Linked DNA regions of Homo sapiens. The protein of the gene in region 1 purifies or fractionates together with the protein of each later gene. This does not show direct contact. Each region holds a gene or a part of one and is shown in the gene's direction. Other genes may lie near its edges.

What was found.
Region 2: the proteins of SLC8A3 (region 1) and SPPL2B purify together in Homo sapiens (affinity purification with mass spectrometry; 3 studies listed by BioGRID and IntAct, with this or other methods). This does not show direct contact.

The regions. Positions count from the first base shown.
Region 1 is NC_000014.9:70,185,794-70,193,188, reverse strand, and holds the start of SLC8A3 (sodium/calcium exchanger 3 isoform D precursor), read left to right. Parts: upstream 1-4,237; 5' UTR 4,238-4,810; intron 4,811-5,956; exon of another isoform or gene 5,957-6,081; intron 6,082-7,395. UniProt on the Homo sapiens protein: Mediates the electrogenic exchange of Ca(2+) against Na(+) ions across the cell membrane, and thereby contributes to the regulation of cytoplasmic Ca(2+) levels and Ca(2+)-dependent cellular processes.
Region 2 is NC_000019.10:2,345,646-2,352,919, forward strand, and holds part of SPPL2B (signal peptide peptidase-like 2B isoform 2 precursor), read left to right. Parts: intron 1-5,788; coding exon 5,789-5,949; coding exon of another isoform or gene 5,950-5,970; exon of another isoform or gene 5,971-6,012; intron 6,013-7,274. UniProt on the Homo sapiens protein: Intramembrane-cleaving aspartic protease (I-CLiP) that cleaves type II membrane signal peptides in the hydrophobic plane of the membrane. Functions in ITM2B and TNF processing.

The DNA.
Region 1 (7,395 bases):
GTATAGTCCAAGGGCTGTGGAATGCTGGCACCTAGGTTGCTTGTGAGAAGAGACACTGTGGCTTGTGTGGGATGCAGTGCCACTGGTGGCCAGGACTGGCAGGTCGTCTGCTTATGAAGTGCCTGAGGCCCCGCTTTTGGAGAGGCACTGACTTGTGGAGTTCTGCAGCATAATGGCAAATACTGGGGCCCCACCAAGAAGCCATGTGGTCCCTTCCCACTATTCATCCCATCTGCCCTATTACTTGCTGCTCAGCCTCTAGAGAAAGGGTATTCTATGACAAGGACTCACAGAATTAGGGCTACTATGACAAAATACCAAAGACTGAGTGGCTTAACTAACAGAAATTATTTTCTCATAGTTCTGGAGCCTAGAACTCCCACATCAAGGTGTCAGCACATTTGATTTCTCTCTCCTTGGCTTGCCTTCTCGCTGTGTCCTCACAAGGTTGTCCCTCTGTCTGTCTGTGTCCTAATCTCCTCTTCTTATAAGGATAGCAGTCATAGTGGATTAGGGCCCACACTGACGGCACTGTTTTAATTTTATTACCTTTTTAAAGACCCTGTCTCAAAACCCAGGCACATTCTGGGTACTAAGGGCTAGGGCTTCAACACACAAGTTTTGGGACACACAATTCAGTCCATAAAAGAGTCTGTCTAGTTCTTACCAAGCTCTGTGACTGGGCTGAATCCTGTAGCTTCTCGGGTCCTGAGTTTCTTCCCAACTTGAAAATGAGGTTTGTGGCTCTTGCTCCCAATGCTGATGTTACACAGCTTACTTTCCATCTTCCTTGTGAACATCTCCTTGGGTTCCAGTACAGCTAGATATAAGTAACAATGGCAGAAATGCAAGTACGGTGTCATTACATTTAATGTTTTCCAACCCTGTATGCATGTAGTGGGGAGAAAAAAAGAAGTGAGAATGTCCAGAGTTGAAAGCAGTCTGAGACTTCATAGGCCACGTGAAGGTTGGCTGTAGAACTTAAGATGGGAGAGAAGCAGGGTTGGGGGAGAACAAAAGTAGGGGAGAAGGAGAATTGATATATATTTGGGGATTGGTCTGTACCAGAAACTGTAATCTCACTGAAGCTTCACAACAACCTCACGAGGTGGGTATTATTATTATTAATAATAATAATTAATAATAATAATAATAATTATTATTATTATTAATAATAATAATTATTATTATTCCCATTTTACTGGTGAGGACACTGAGGCTCAGAATGCAGAGCTGGGCTTTGCTATTTCAGTCTACCTAGAACTCAGAGGAACCTACGCAAGTCAGCTCTGCCGACAGCGTTGGTTGAACATGCTTTGGCACCTCTTGCCTTCCTCCCCGCAGCATTGCCCTGTCACAGGTGACAAGAGGAAGACAAGGTTCCTGTCTGTTTTGTTTGGTAGTTCTAAAAAAATGACATGACCAATTCTGTTGTTGTTGCTGGTTCAGTTTTAGTGAATAGGTAATGTTCACTGAAAATATATCAATAGATATTAACAAGCAAACAAATAAAATTCTGGCACAAGCAAAACTAAGCCACAGTGACAGAAAGCAGATCAATAGTTGCCTGTGGGAAGAGCGGATGAGTATAAAGGGGCCTGAGAGGACTTCTGGGGGAGATGAAAATGTTCTATGTCTTGACTGAGGTTGTTGCTCTACATGTATGTACTTGTATAAAAACTCTTCAAACTATACACTTAAAACAGGTGAGTTTTTAGTAGTAGTAGTGATGTTTGGATACCTGTAACTTTATCTCCATTAGAAATGTCAGATATTTTAATATCATCAGTTAGTTTTTGCAGGTATCTTGAAATATTATTCATGTTCCTCACTACTGGGATAGTTTTGCAGATTCATGTTCCTCACTACTGAGATAGTCATTTAGCCTGTGCACTAGACCTTGCTTTTGATGCCTTCATAAAGCATAGATCAGAAAAAAGGTGAGTTGTTGTATGTAAATTACACCTCAATAAAGTTGATTGATACAAAGAGAAACAAAATCACCAGAAATCCCACCACCAAGAGATAACCACTACCATTTTGGGGTTTTTATGCTGCCAGGGCATTCATCCCCACCCCGCCACCCCCGCACATGCTGTGTTACACTGTGTTCTGGGGTTTTTTTTCTCTCTGTCTACGATATATTATAAAAACCTTTCCACACCAGTACACAGAATGCTGCATCTGTATTTTTACAGTGGTAGAATACAGCATTATGTCAACAAAACATGTTTACTTCACCAATTTGTTGTGTTGGAAAATTAAGATGTTTCCAATTTTTCACTCTTAAAAACACTACCATGAATATCCTTGTAACTAAATATTTGAGCATATCCTTAATGATTGCCATAGAATAAATTTCTTCCAGTAAAATTACTGGGTCACAGGCATTCACGTTTTTAAGGAATTTGATGTATCTTTCAAAATTGCCCTACCTAAAAACTCTATCAATTTAGGTGCCCATTAGCCATCTCTTTGTCTCTACTGTAGACTCTCAATGTGTAGACTCAGCATTGTGACTCTCCACGGGAGCAGACACAAGGTAAGTCCCAGTAACTGACATATCCTGAGATCCCACAACTTTAGAAGCTATTGAAACCTTTCAAAGTCAGTCCCAGCCCTAACTTTAAATGAAATTCAAGACCCATAAAGGTTCAGGGGTCTGAAAGCACTCCTACTGCTCCTACTGAGCACATCCAGGATTCTGACTCCGGACTCAGGCCAGAAACCACCACACAGCTTGCTAACGGAACACTGAGTCAAAGGACCAGCAAAGACCTCCTGCCATCTCAGGCTTAGAGATTCCCTAGTCTCTACACCCCCTTAATCTGTTTGAACCAAGCCTTGCTCCAGAGCAGCCGGGCAAAGGAGCCAGGGATCTCAGGAGTCACACACACTGTTGACGTCTCAGCACAACTCCGGTTGGTTGCATTTTATTTCAATCCTTGGCTCTGCTGCACGTGGCCTTGGGATGGTTATTTAACCTAAGGCTCAATTTCCTCAACAAAAAAATGGAGTTGGTAATTGTACCTAGCTCACAGAGTTTTAGTAGGATGGCATGAGGTAATACAATCAAATTCACTAGCACCACTCCTGGCCCTTAAAAGGTGCTGCTATTTGGTAAGTATTATTATCATTTGTTGGCCCCTCACACTTAGCCTCAGGCAGCAGAGAGGCCTGAAAGAGAACAACTTCCTGCCCTTACATTCTGACTTTTCTGCACTGGTGTCGCTACAGAAGGCCAGCCACCAGGCTCATTTTAGATCTGCCTAATGCCACCGATAAGCTGAGGGCTTGAAACCCCATTCTTAGGAGTGGCTTGCCCACCCCGCATGCCTCTAGGACCAAGCCTGACAAATATAGCAGAAATTACAGGCATCTGATTTAAGGCTACGTGTGTACACTTCGCCTGAGCCAAGCCCCAAGCCCTAGTCCCGCTGCTGCATCAAAGGACCAGCTCTCTTCCAGCCTCCAGGCCCAGAGTAAGCAGCAATTTGGGAGGCAGCCCCCTCTTATTTTTAGCTTTAGAAACCCGAAAAGCCAACATACCAGAGCTCACCCAAGCGTCTCTCACAAACTGTTGTTTGACTTGGGTTGAGAAAATGACAGGCTGGGTTCTGCACCAAGAAGAGAAGAAAAAAAGAGGGGGAAAAAAGGAGTTTTCTTTTCCCTCCGCTGCCAATCTCCATCCCCCTCAACTCCTCCCCTAGGCCTGGGTGGACCCTGCCTGGGTAATAGTTCCCTGCTATATTTAAAAACCACAGATGTGTTTGGTGGAGACTTAATTTCGGAATTGCAGGCAGCGTCTCCTGAGGACAAGGGGAAAGCCGGTGCCGCGCGCCCGCCTGCTGCCTGGAGCTCCCAACTCGGCGGAATCCAGGTCAGGACGCGCCGCCGTTTTGACGTGCTGCCGGCCGGGAGGCGCGGGCGCCAGGCTCCAACGACTAGGGTGGGTGGCCGCGGGGCAGGGGTTGGATCTGAATTCGTCCCTCGGGGGCTCTGGATGCGGGATGCGGGATGCGGGATGCGGGCTCGACTTCCTCGCTGCTGGTCGAGGAGCGTTCTGAGAGTCTCCCCTCCGCGCGCGAGGATAAATATGCGCGGCTTGTCAGTCAGTGCGGCGCTGTCTCCCAGCTGATAGGGTGACGTTCCGTTTGGAGGCTTGGAGATTGGCTTTTTGATTTGGCTTCTTCCGGCAGCTTAATGGGCAAAGCTCTCCGCTCGCCCAGAAACCAGCCTCTCCGCGCGTCCCCTCTGCGCGCGGCGAGGCCGAGACGTCTCCCGCGGTGACAGCGTGCAAGGCGGAGACCCGGCGCGCTCCCAGCCCAGGGAAAGCCCAGGCGACGCGACCGCAAGCCCGAGCCCAGGTCCCTCGGAGCCGCCAGGGCGCGCCGGGCTGCTTGCCTTCCTGCCCCTTCCTGCAGGAATCCCCCGCCGCCCGCGGCCGGGACTCCGGGCCTCTCCCGGGCGTAGATTCCAGTCACCGCTCTGGGTCGGGGTTTCCCTCTTTCTGAAATCCGTGCGGAAGGACCCCTCCCGGGGCCCCTCGCCCTGGCCCCAGACACCCTCCCTCCCAGACCCCGCGCTCCAGATGCGCTGCCCCGCAGCTCCCTGACAGCTGCGAGCCCACGAACCCCGGCGGGAGGGCGGCGGCGGCGGACTGACATGCCCCGGACGCGGCTGCGGCCGGCGGGCAGCCCGCGGGGGCGATGAGCCGCTGCGACCGGTGAGGCGCCGGGCGGCGGGGGCATCGCGTACCTTCCTCACCCCCCTCCCTTGCCCACTCCGCTCGGGAGGCCGAGAGGAAACGGTGAGTAATGGGGTGAGCCTCCTGCCCTTCCCCCTTAGCGGGCAGCCGAGACATGGGAGGTAGAGGTTGGGGGGCTTGGGATGCCCCTAAGAGGATCCCTGATTGTGAGTAACGGGGTTAAGTTATTTCTCAAGATCATTCATATGAACCGCCTTCCTGTGGATTTAGTGCCAGGAGAAGTGGGGTGAGGGTGCCCCGGAAAGTGTACATTGTGTATGCAGTGTTGGGGGGGCAGATCTGGCAGAGTGGGTGTCTACAGGAGGGTGCCGCCGGGTGGGGAGGGGCAGAGAGAGATGCCTGGGCAGGTGGGTACAGTTGGATCGTGAGCATGCTGGGTTGGTAGCGGGTGCTGTTTGGGGAGACTGACTGCTGTGTTGTGTGTGCTGGATGCATGTCGGCATATGTGTGCCACCTGGGCCAGGGCGTGTTGTGCTTCTGGTGCTGTGAGTGTCCGCCGGGTTTGGGGGCTAGCAGGGAAGCGCGTTATCCACTCGGCGCGCGCCCGCGTGCACATACGCACGCACGCGCTCACCCCAATCTCGGGACTCCACCGCCGCGGGTCGGGAGCTGCAGCCCCAGAGCACCCACCGCTGGGGCCAAGGGGGCGAGGGAGAAGGAGGGTTTCTCCAGTGCTGCACTCTCCAGCCCCTGGTGGTCTGCGTGATCCGGGACTCGGTGGAGAGAATCGAAATATATAACTAACCCTCCCCCGATCCCCCAACACACACGCGCGCGCGGACACACACACACACACACACACACACACACACACACACACAGTCAAAGCCCTGATTCAGAGGCTAGCGCTGCTGCTCCTACAGGCCCTGGCTGACCTGCCCAGAGGACCCGAGCCACTGGGAAAGATGATGAAAGCAATTTGCTCCGGGGAAAAAAGCAGTTCTTCGTCTTAATTCATTGTATTTTATTTTTAACGGTGTGGTAGTGGTGGTGGTGGCGGGGTGGGGTTAAATAGAAGAAATGCCTTTAATGCAGTACCATAAATTTACCCGCTCATCGCAGCTTCCTTCTCTCTCTCTCTCTCTCTCCCCCCGCCCCCCGCTTCTCTTCTCTTCTCTCCTCCTTTCCTCTCTCTCTCTCTCTCTCTTTCTCTCTCTCTCCCCCTTTCCTGGCGATTAAAAAACATACCTCCGAACGCATTCGGCGGTTAGGTCTCCCGGGCAGAAGAATTAAAACTGGTTTCAATTTATCAGAAACGCAGACTGCAGCAGGCGCAGCCAAGCTCCTGGGTGGTCAAGAAACACCCGAAGGGGGTGGGGGGAGGAGGGAGTTGAGCGGGGGTGGAATGTGGGTACGTGATAGGAACACATCCGGCCTTCCGGTGGGGCACCAAAAGGGAAGCCTCCTCGGCCCCTGGCGACCCGGTGACTTGCAGCGGCGTGTGATTAATCTTCCACAGCTGTCGTGCCCCATCCACTTGAGCTGAGCTCTTGTTTACCTCGATTTTCAAATATAGCTGCTGCGCCATGCTCTTCCTGAAATAGGGGGATCAGTTCACCCTTTATGGGCTCTTGGCTTCGGGCTGGGGCTTCTTTTTGCTGGCGTCACTGGCTGGATCCAAGTTTGAGAGGAACCTGCCCCTTCATGCATTGCAGGTCTCCAAAGGAGGATGGCTGATGGTCAAAGCTTAGGGTAACTAGATGTGGACTGATCAACCCAGCCCCTCATTGCAATCTACAATGCCCAGCAGCAGTCCCCACACACAAGTCCACTTTGTAGCCTCCTTTTTCTTTAAATGAAATGTAGATACTGGGTTGAGAGGAAGCAGATAAGGCCTATAGAACTGAACTTGGTTGAAGTGGTTCTTTCTTTAACTTGATGGAGAAGGGAAGGCCATTCATGCAGTTTCCTCCGCTTGGAATGCTTTATTCTTCTTCCAACATACTCCTAAAGTACTCCTACTCAAGCTTCAGCTCTCAGCTCACTAGTTACTTCCTCAAGGAAGCCTTTCATATTCTCCCTGACTAGGCCACATCCCTGCTTATTATACACCTGTATTAGTCCGTTCTCACACTGGTAATAAAGACATACCCAAGACTGGGTAATTTATAAAGGAAAGAGGTTTAATAGAGTCACAGTTCCACAGGGCTGGGGAGGCCTTAGGAAGTTTACAATCATGGTGGAAGGGGAAGCAAACATGTCCTTCTTCACATGGCGGCAGCAAGAAGTGACGAAAAAAAGGGGGAAAAGCCCCTTACAAAGCCATCAGATCTTGTGAGAACTCACTGTCACAAGAACAGCAGCATGGGGGTTACTGCCCCCATGATTCAATTACTTCCCTGGCTTCCTCCCAGGACACGTAGGGATTATAGGAACTACAATTCAAGATGAGATTTGGGTGGGGACACAGCCAAGCCATATTTGGCCGTGGAGTCCATTGGACTCCAAAAGAAAAATATTTGTTTATTCATTCGGTTAGCCATTTATTCAATAAATATTCAACAGCCACCTACTCTGTCAGGCATGTGCTAAGTCCAGATGCAAATAAAATAGAATGGACCCTTTTCTCATAAACACTCATAATCTGAACTTATATTTTTGAAGTAATTTAAAGACGCCCATTAAAT
Region 2 (7,274 bases), on another chromosome or scaffold:
CCCCTCTTTCTCATTCTCCCCGGGCCTGTGCCTGCAACCCCCTCTTTCTCATTCTTCCTGGGCCTGTGCCTCCGTCCCCGTCTTTCTCATTCTCCCTGGGCCTGTGCCTCCGTCCCCCTCTTTCTCATTCTCCCTGGGCCCGTGCCTCCATCCCCGTCTTTCTCATTCTCCCTGGGTCCGTGCCTCCGTCCCTGTCTTTCTCATTCTCCCTGGGCCTGTGCCTCCGTCCCCGTCTTTCTCATTCTCCTTTGGCCTGTGTCCACATCCTGGTCTTTCTCATTCTCCCTGGGCCTGTGCCTCCGTCCCCGTCTTTCTCATTTTCCCTGGCTTCCATTGTTCTGTTCTTTTCTTTTCCTTTTCTTTCCTGTTTTCCTCTTTTTGTCTTTTTCTTCTTTGCCTTGTCTTCTACTGTTTCTTTTGTTATGAACGTATTTACGCAAAGTGCTGTTATCTGTTGACCCACATTGTTTTGAAAAATGTCCCCCACCGCAGCTGGCCCTAAGGAAAGAAGCTGTGGTGCTTTCTGGTTCCTGGGCACAGGGCCAGGCCAGGCCTCCTCTGCCGAGCCACGCCCCCGACCCTGCCCTCCACGTGGCTCCCTAAACGGCCACTCCCAGGGCCAGGAGAGTTCAGGCCGGCCTGTCCCCTCACACCTGCCTCCTGCAGCTGCAGGTGCCCCTGGCTTTCCCCTCGCCCGATTTTACTGTCTTCATGATTATCCTTTAAAATCACGGCTGAGGCCGGGTACGGGGGCTCATGTCTGTGATCCCAGCTTTCTGGGAGGCTGAAGTGGGAGGATTGCTTGAGTCCAGGAGTTCAAGACCAGCCTGGGCAACATAGTAAGACCCTGTCTCTGCAGAAGAATGCAAAAATTAGCCGGGCATGGTGACATGTGCCTGTAGCCCCAGCTACTCTGCAGGCTGAGGTGGGAGGATCGCTTGAGCCTGGGAGTTCAAGGCTGCAGTGAGCCATGATCGTGCCACCGCACTCCAGCCTAGGCAACAGAGTGAGACCCTGTCTCGAAAAAATAATAATAAAATGAAAGAAAAAATAAAAACACAGCTGCAGAGATTTGTCTCTCCTGAAACATAACTTGTCAAGTTGTCCCTGTAATTCCTGAGACTGAAGCCGCTGAGGCTTTATAGGTGCCAGCCCTCCCTGTTTGTGTCTGTCTGCGTCTGTTGATGATGGCTGATGGACACGTGGATGGCCTAAAATGGACCAATAGGGACGCTCCCCGTGGCATGGCGTCAGAAATACAGAGATGGGTGTTAGAAAAAGTGCCGGGAGCAGTGTGCTTGCTGGACACAGCGGCTCTTTTTTTAAGAGTGTTCTAGCAAATAATTAATTTTCTCAGAGCTTTATTTTGAAATAATTTCAAATGACAGTTGCAGGATCGCTACAGAGAACTCCCGTGTGCCCCGTTCTCAGAGGGACTGGTCATTTCTTCACATTCGCTTGATTCCGTTCTCTCTCCCTCCACACACACTTACGCGCTCTCATTCACCTGATTCCGTTCTCTCTCCACACACACGCGCTCTCATTCGCCTGATTCCGTTCTCTCCCTCCACACACACACTCACGCGCTCTCATTCGCTTGATGCCGTTCTCTCTCCACACACACTCACGCACTCTCATTCGCCTGATTCCGTTCTCCTTCTCTCCACACACACTCACGCGCTCTCATTCGCCTGATTCCGTTCTCTCTCCACACACACACACTCTCATTCGCCTGATTCCGTTCTCTCTCTCCACACACGCGCTCTCATTCGCCTGATTCCGTTCTCTCTCTCCACACACACACACTCTCATTCGCCTGATTCCGTTCTCTCTCCACACACACTCACGCACTCTTATTCGCCTGATTCCGTTCTCTCCCTCCACACACACACTCACGCGCTCTCATTCGCTTGATGCCGTTCTCTCTCCACACACACTCACGCACTCTCATTCGCCTGATTCCGTTCTCTCCCTCCACACACACACTCACGCGCTCTCATTCGCTTGATGCCGTTCTCTCTCCACACACACTCACGCACTCTCATTCGCCTGATTCCGTTCTCCTTCTCTCCACACACACTCACGCGCTCTCATTCGCCTGATTCCGTTCTCTCTCCACACACACACACTCTCATTCGCCTGATTCCGTTCTCTCTCTCCACACACACGCGCTCTCATTCGCCTGATTCCGTTCTCTCTCCACACACACACACTCTCATTCGCCTGATTCCGTTCTCTCTCCACACACACTCACGCACTCTTATTCGCCTGATTCCGTTCTCTCCCTCCACACACACACTCGCGCTCTCATTCGCTTGATGCGGTTCTCTCTCCACACACACACTCACGCGCTCTCATTTGCCTGATTCCGTTCTCTCCCTCCACACACAGACTCACGCGCTCTCATTCGCTTGATTCCATTCTCTCCCTCCACACACACTCATGCGCTGTCATTCGCTTGATTCCGTTCTCTCTCCACACACACTCACGCTCTCATTCGCTTGATTCCGTTCTCTCTCCACACACACTCGCGCTCTCATTCGCTTGATTCCGTTCTCTCTCCACACACACACACTCTCATTCGCCTGATTCCGTTCTCTCTCCACACACACTCACGCACTCTTATTCGCCTGATTCCGTTCTCTCCCTCCACACACACACTCGCGCTCTCATTCGCTTGATGCGGTTCTCTCTCCACACACACACTCACGCGCTCTCATTTGCCTGATTCCGTTCTCTCCCTCCACACACAGACTCACGCGCTCTCATTCGCTTGATTCCATTCTCTCCCTCCACACACACTCATGCGCTGTCATTCGCTTGATTCCGTTCTCTCTCCACACACACTCACGCTCTCATTCGCTTGATTCCGTTCTCTCTCCCTCCACACACACTCACGTTCTCATTCGCGTGATTCCGTTCTCTCTCCACACAGACTCATGCACTCTCATTCGCCTGATTCCATTCTCTCTCTCCACACACACTCACACGCTGTCATTCGCTTGATTCCGTTCTCTCTCCACACACACTCACGCTCTCATTCGCTTGATTCCGTTCTCTCTCCACACACACTCACGCTCTCATTCGCTTGATTCCGTTCTCTCTCTCCACACACACTCACGCGCTCTCATTCGCTTGATTCCGTTCTCTCCCTCCACACACACTCGTGTTCTCATTCGCTTGATTCCATTCTCTCCCTCCACACACACTCACGCGCTGTCATTCGCTTGATTCCATTCTCTCTCTCCACACACACTCACGCGCTCTCATTCGCTTGATTCTGTTCTCTCTCTCCACACACACTCACGCGCTGTCATTCGCTTGATTCCGTTCTCTCTCCACACACACTCACGCTCTCATTCGCTTGATTCCGTTCTCTCTCTCTCCACACACACTCACGCGCTCTCATTCGCTTGATTCCGTTCTCTCCCTCCACACACACTCGCGTTCTCATTCGCTTGATTCCATTCTCTCCCTCCACACACACTCGCGTTCTCATTCGCTTGATTCCATTCTCTCCCTCCACACACACTCACGCGCTGTCATTCGCTTGATTCCGTTCTCTCTCTCCACACACACTCGTGTTCTCATTCGCCTGATTCCGTTCTCTCTCTCCACACACACTCGTGTTCTCATTCGCTTGATTCCGTTCTCTCTCCACACACACGCGCTCTCATTCGCTTGATTCCGTTCTCTCTCTCCACACACACTCGTGTTCTCATTCGCCTGATTCCGTTCTCTCTCTCCACACACACTCGTGTTCTCATTCGCTTGATTCCGTTCTCTCTCTCCACACACACGCGCTCTCATTCGCTTGATTCCGTTCTCTCTCTCCACACACACTCGTGTTCTCATTCGCCTGATTCCGTTCTCTCTCTCCACACACACTCGTGTTCTCATTCGCCTGATTCCGTTCTCTCTCTCCACACACACTCGTGTTCTCATTCGCTTGATTCCGTTCTCTCTCTCCACACACACGCGCTCTCATTCGCTTGATTCCGTTCTCTCTCTCCACACACACTCGTGTTCTCATTCGCCTGATTCCGTTCTCTCTCCACACACACTCGTGTTCTCATTCGCTTGATTCCGTTCTCTCTCTCCACACACATGCGCTCTCATTTGCTTGATTCCGTTCTCTCTCCACACACACTCACGCGCTCTCATTCGCTTGACTCTGTTCTCTCTCTCCACACACACTCACGCTCTCATTCGCTTGATTCCGTTCTCTCTCTCCACACACACTCGCGCCCTCATTCGCTTGATTCCATTCTCTCTCTCCACACACACTCACATGCTCTCATTTGCTTGATTCTGTTCTCTCTCTACACACACTCACGCGCTCTCATTTGCTTGATTCCGTTCTCTCCCTCGACACACACTCGCTCTCATTCGCTTGATTCCGTTCTCTCTCTCCACACACTCACGCGCTCTCATTCGCTTGACTCTGTTCTCTCTCTCCACACACACTCGCGCTCTCATTTGCTTGATTCCGTTCTCTCTCTCCACACACACTCACGCGCTCTCATTCGCTTGATTCCGTTCTCTCTCCACACACACTCGTGCTCTCATTGGCTTGATTCCGTTCTCTCTCCACACACACACTTGCGCTCTTATTCGCTTGATTCCGTTCTCTCTCTCCACACACTCACGCGCTGTCATTCGCTTGACTCCGTTCTCTCTCCACACACACACTCACGTGCTCTCATTCGCTTGATTCCGTTCTCTCTCTCCACACACACTCGCGTTCTCATTCGCTTGATTCCGTTCTCTCTCCACACACACACTCGCGCTCTCATTCGCTTGATTCCGTTCTCTCTCTCCACACACACTCACGCTTTCATTCGCTTGATTCCATTCTCTCTCTCTCCACACACACACTCACGCTCCCCCGTGTACTGCAGTTGGCCCTCACTAGCCATGGGTTCCTGCAGCTGTGGATTTCACTAGCTGTAGGTTGAAAATATTTGGGGAAAAGATTTGTGTTCTTATCTGTACTGAACACATGCAGATTTTTTGGGCCAGTTTTCCCGAAGCAATGCCATGCGACAGCCATTGCCTGCGGCGACATCACGTTTGCGTTTGTAGGAACCTATGGTGATTTATGGTTTGGCAGGACGCGGGTGGGTTCTAGGCAGACACTGCACCAGTTTACGTCAGGGACATGAGCAAGGGGGTCCTGGCAGCCCTCCCCTGCGGGTGCCAAGGGTGGCCATGTGTGCGTTTGTGTATTTACATGCACACGTATGTAAATCACAGGCTGCGTTCTCAGGGGACTGGGGGCACGGCCCCGGTGGGTGGACACCGTGCCCTTTGACCCCAAACATTTCACTGGGTGTCTCCTGAGAACATAGTTTATATGCCCACAGCTCAGTGTTCAAGGGTTTTCTGGTCAGGCACATGTGTCACCTTCGGCTGATTTTCTCAGAGGTTCATAGAAACTGCATCCCAGACACGTCTCGCAGCCCCCTCCGCTATCACGTCTGCCTCCCGCTGTCCTGCAGCTGCCCGGACCCTGCCCCTCCCTGTCCCTCTCCTTGCCCTGGCCCTTCCATGTCCTCGGTGACCCTGGCTCCGGTAGGGTCAGGGTGGGATTGTGGCCCAGGAGGTGCCGGAAGGATCCATGTACTTTGGGGAGCCTGTGGCCCTGCCGGCTGAACCCCCACTGTACCTCTCCCGTCCTCGCACACCCCTGCCCTCCACCAACCCCAGCCCGCTCACGTTCTTCCCAGGGAAATGGGTGGTGGCCCTGGCCTGCCTGGCTGAGGTGATGCCTCCTCTGTCCCCACAGCCTATGGCGTTGGCCTCCTTGTGACATTCGTGGCACTGGCCCTGATGCAGCGTGGCCAGCCCGCTCTCCTCTACCTGGTGCCCTGCACGCTGGTGACGAGCTGCGCTGTGGCGCTCTGGCGCCGGGAGCTGGGCGTGTTCTGGACGGGCAGCGGCTTTGCGGTGAATACCAGTTTGCTCTGACTGTGAGAAATACTCGCCTAGTGAGCCCTAACTAGAGTTAAAGTTGAGTGAGACCTCCAGCCACAGCCAGCCCTGCGGCCGCGACGGGGCTCAGGGTCCTGGTACCTTCTGCTTTGGGTGTCATGCGCGTGAGGCCCCGGTGGAAGGACGTGCGTGCAGCTCCTGTGCCGGGTGGGATGCGGGGGTGCCAGGTGGGGCCCGGGGGTGCCGGGTGGGACGCGGGGGTGCCGGGTGGGGCCCAGGGGTGCCGGGTGGGACGCGGGGGTGCCGGCTGGGACTCGGGGGTGCCATGTCCTTTCTAAAGTTGCTTCTCCCAAATAGTAGTGCCCCACCTGCGTGGGCATCGGGCATCCATCGCCTCTCCTGCCGAGAGCGAGGCGCCTGACTGGGGGTGGGGCCGCAGGGCCCTGGACGAGGGGAGCAGGCCTGCCCTGGCTGTGGAAGCCCTGTCCCCTGTCCCCCTTGGCAAGGCAGGGGGTGGTTGGCAAGGGTTAAACGTGAGATGCAGGGAGGGCTTACGCCACGTCGGTTCTGCTCTTGTGATTTTTTGTGAACAGGAGTGGGTGGGACCCCCCCTTCCAGTGTGCCGCTCAGGTGACTTCCTGGGTTCCCGGGACTCAGGCGCATTGCGCCCGAGAGCTGCCCCCGCCCCTCCGGGCAGCGCCTCTTGGAGTCCATGACCGCCCAGGGAGCAGCCCTGCGCCATAGGGCGATCCTCAGGCTGTTGGGCATGGGTGCAGCTCCTCCCATAGCTGATCTCCCTCTGGGGGAGATGCCGCGCTTCTCAGCGGTGCTGGCCGCGCATGGGGTCCTACGTCATGTTTTTGTGGAGGTTAAACCACACCCGTCCCTGCCGCACTGGTGTGATGCATTGGGTCGAGCTGTGGTTCCAGTGCCGAGCTGGGCTCATGGGTCCCACAGATGGGACCATGGCCTGAGACCAGGCCCCAGGGAGAAGTCTCCTGGGGCCAGCACCCCCACCCCAAAGGTCTCCCCATTCTGATGGGCATTTCAGAAGGTTCAGGAGAAGCCGGGGACCAGGCCCAGGGGCGAGAGACGGTAGTCCAGGCTTTTCTTTGGAGAGGCTTTGCACAGCTCCCAGCCTCTGCTGGCCTCGGATGGCCCTCCCGCGGCACCTGTGCCGATGGACAGGGTCCTGGGTGCCCGTAGGTTATGGAGCCGGCCCCCTCCTTGGGTCCAGAGCCCCTGGGGATGGCGCCTCATTTTGACCCTGCCCCCGTGGCCTGCGGGTGCTGGGTGTCCTGGCCCCTGCCAGGGTCCTCCTCTGGGTCCCTGTCTCCGCC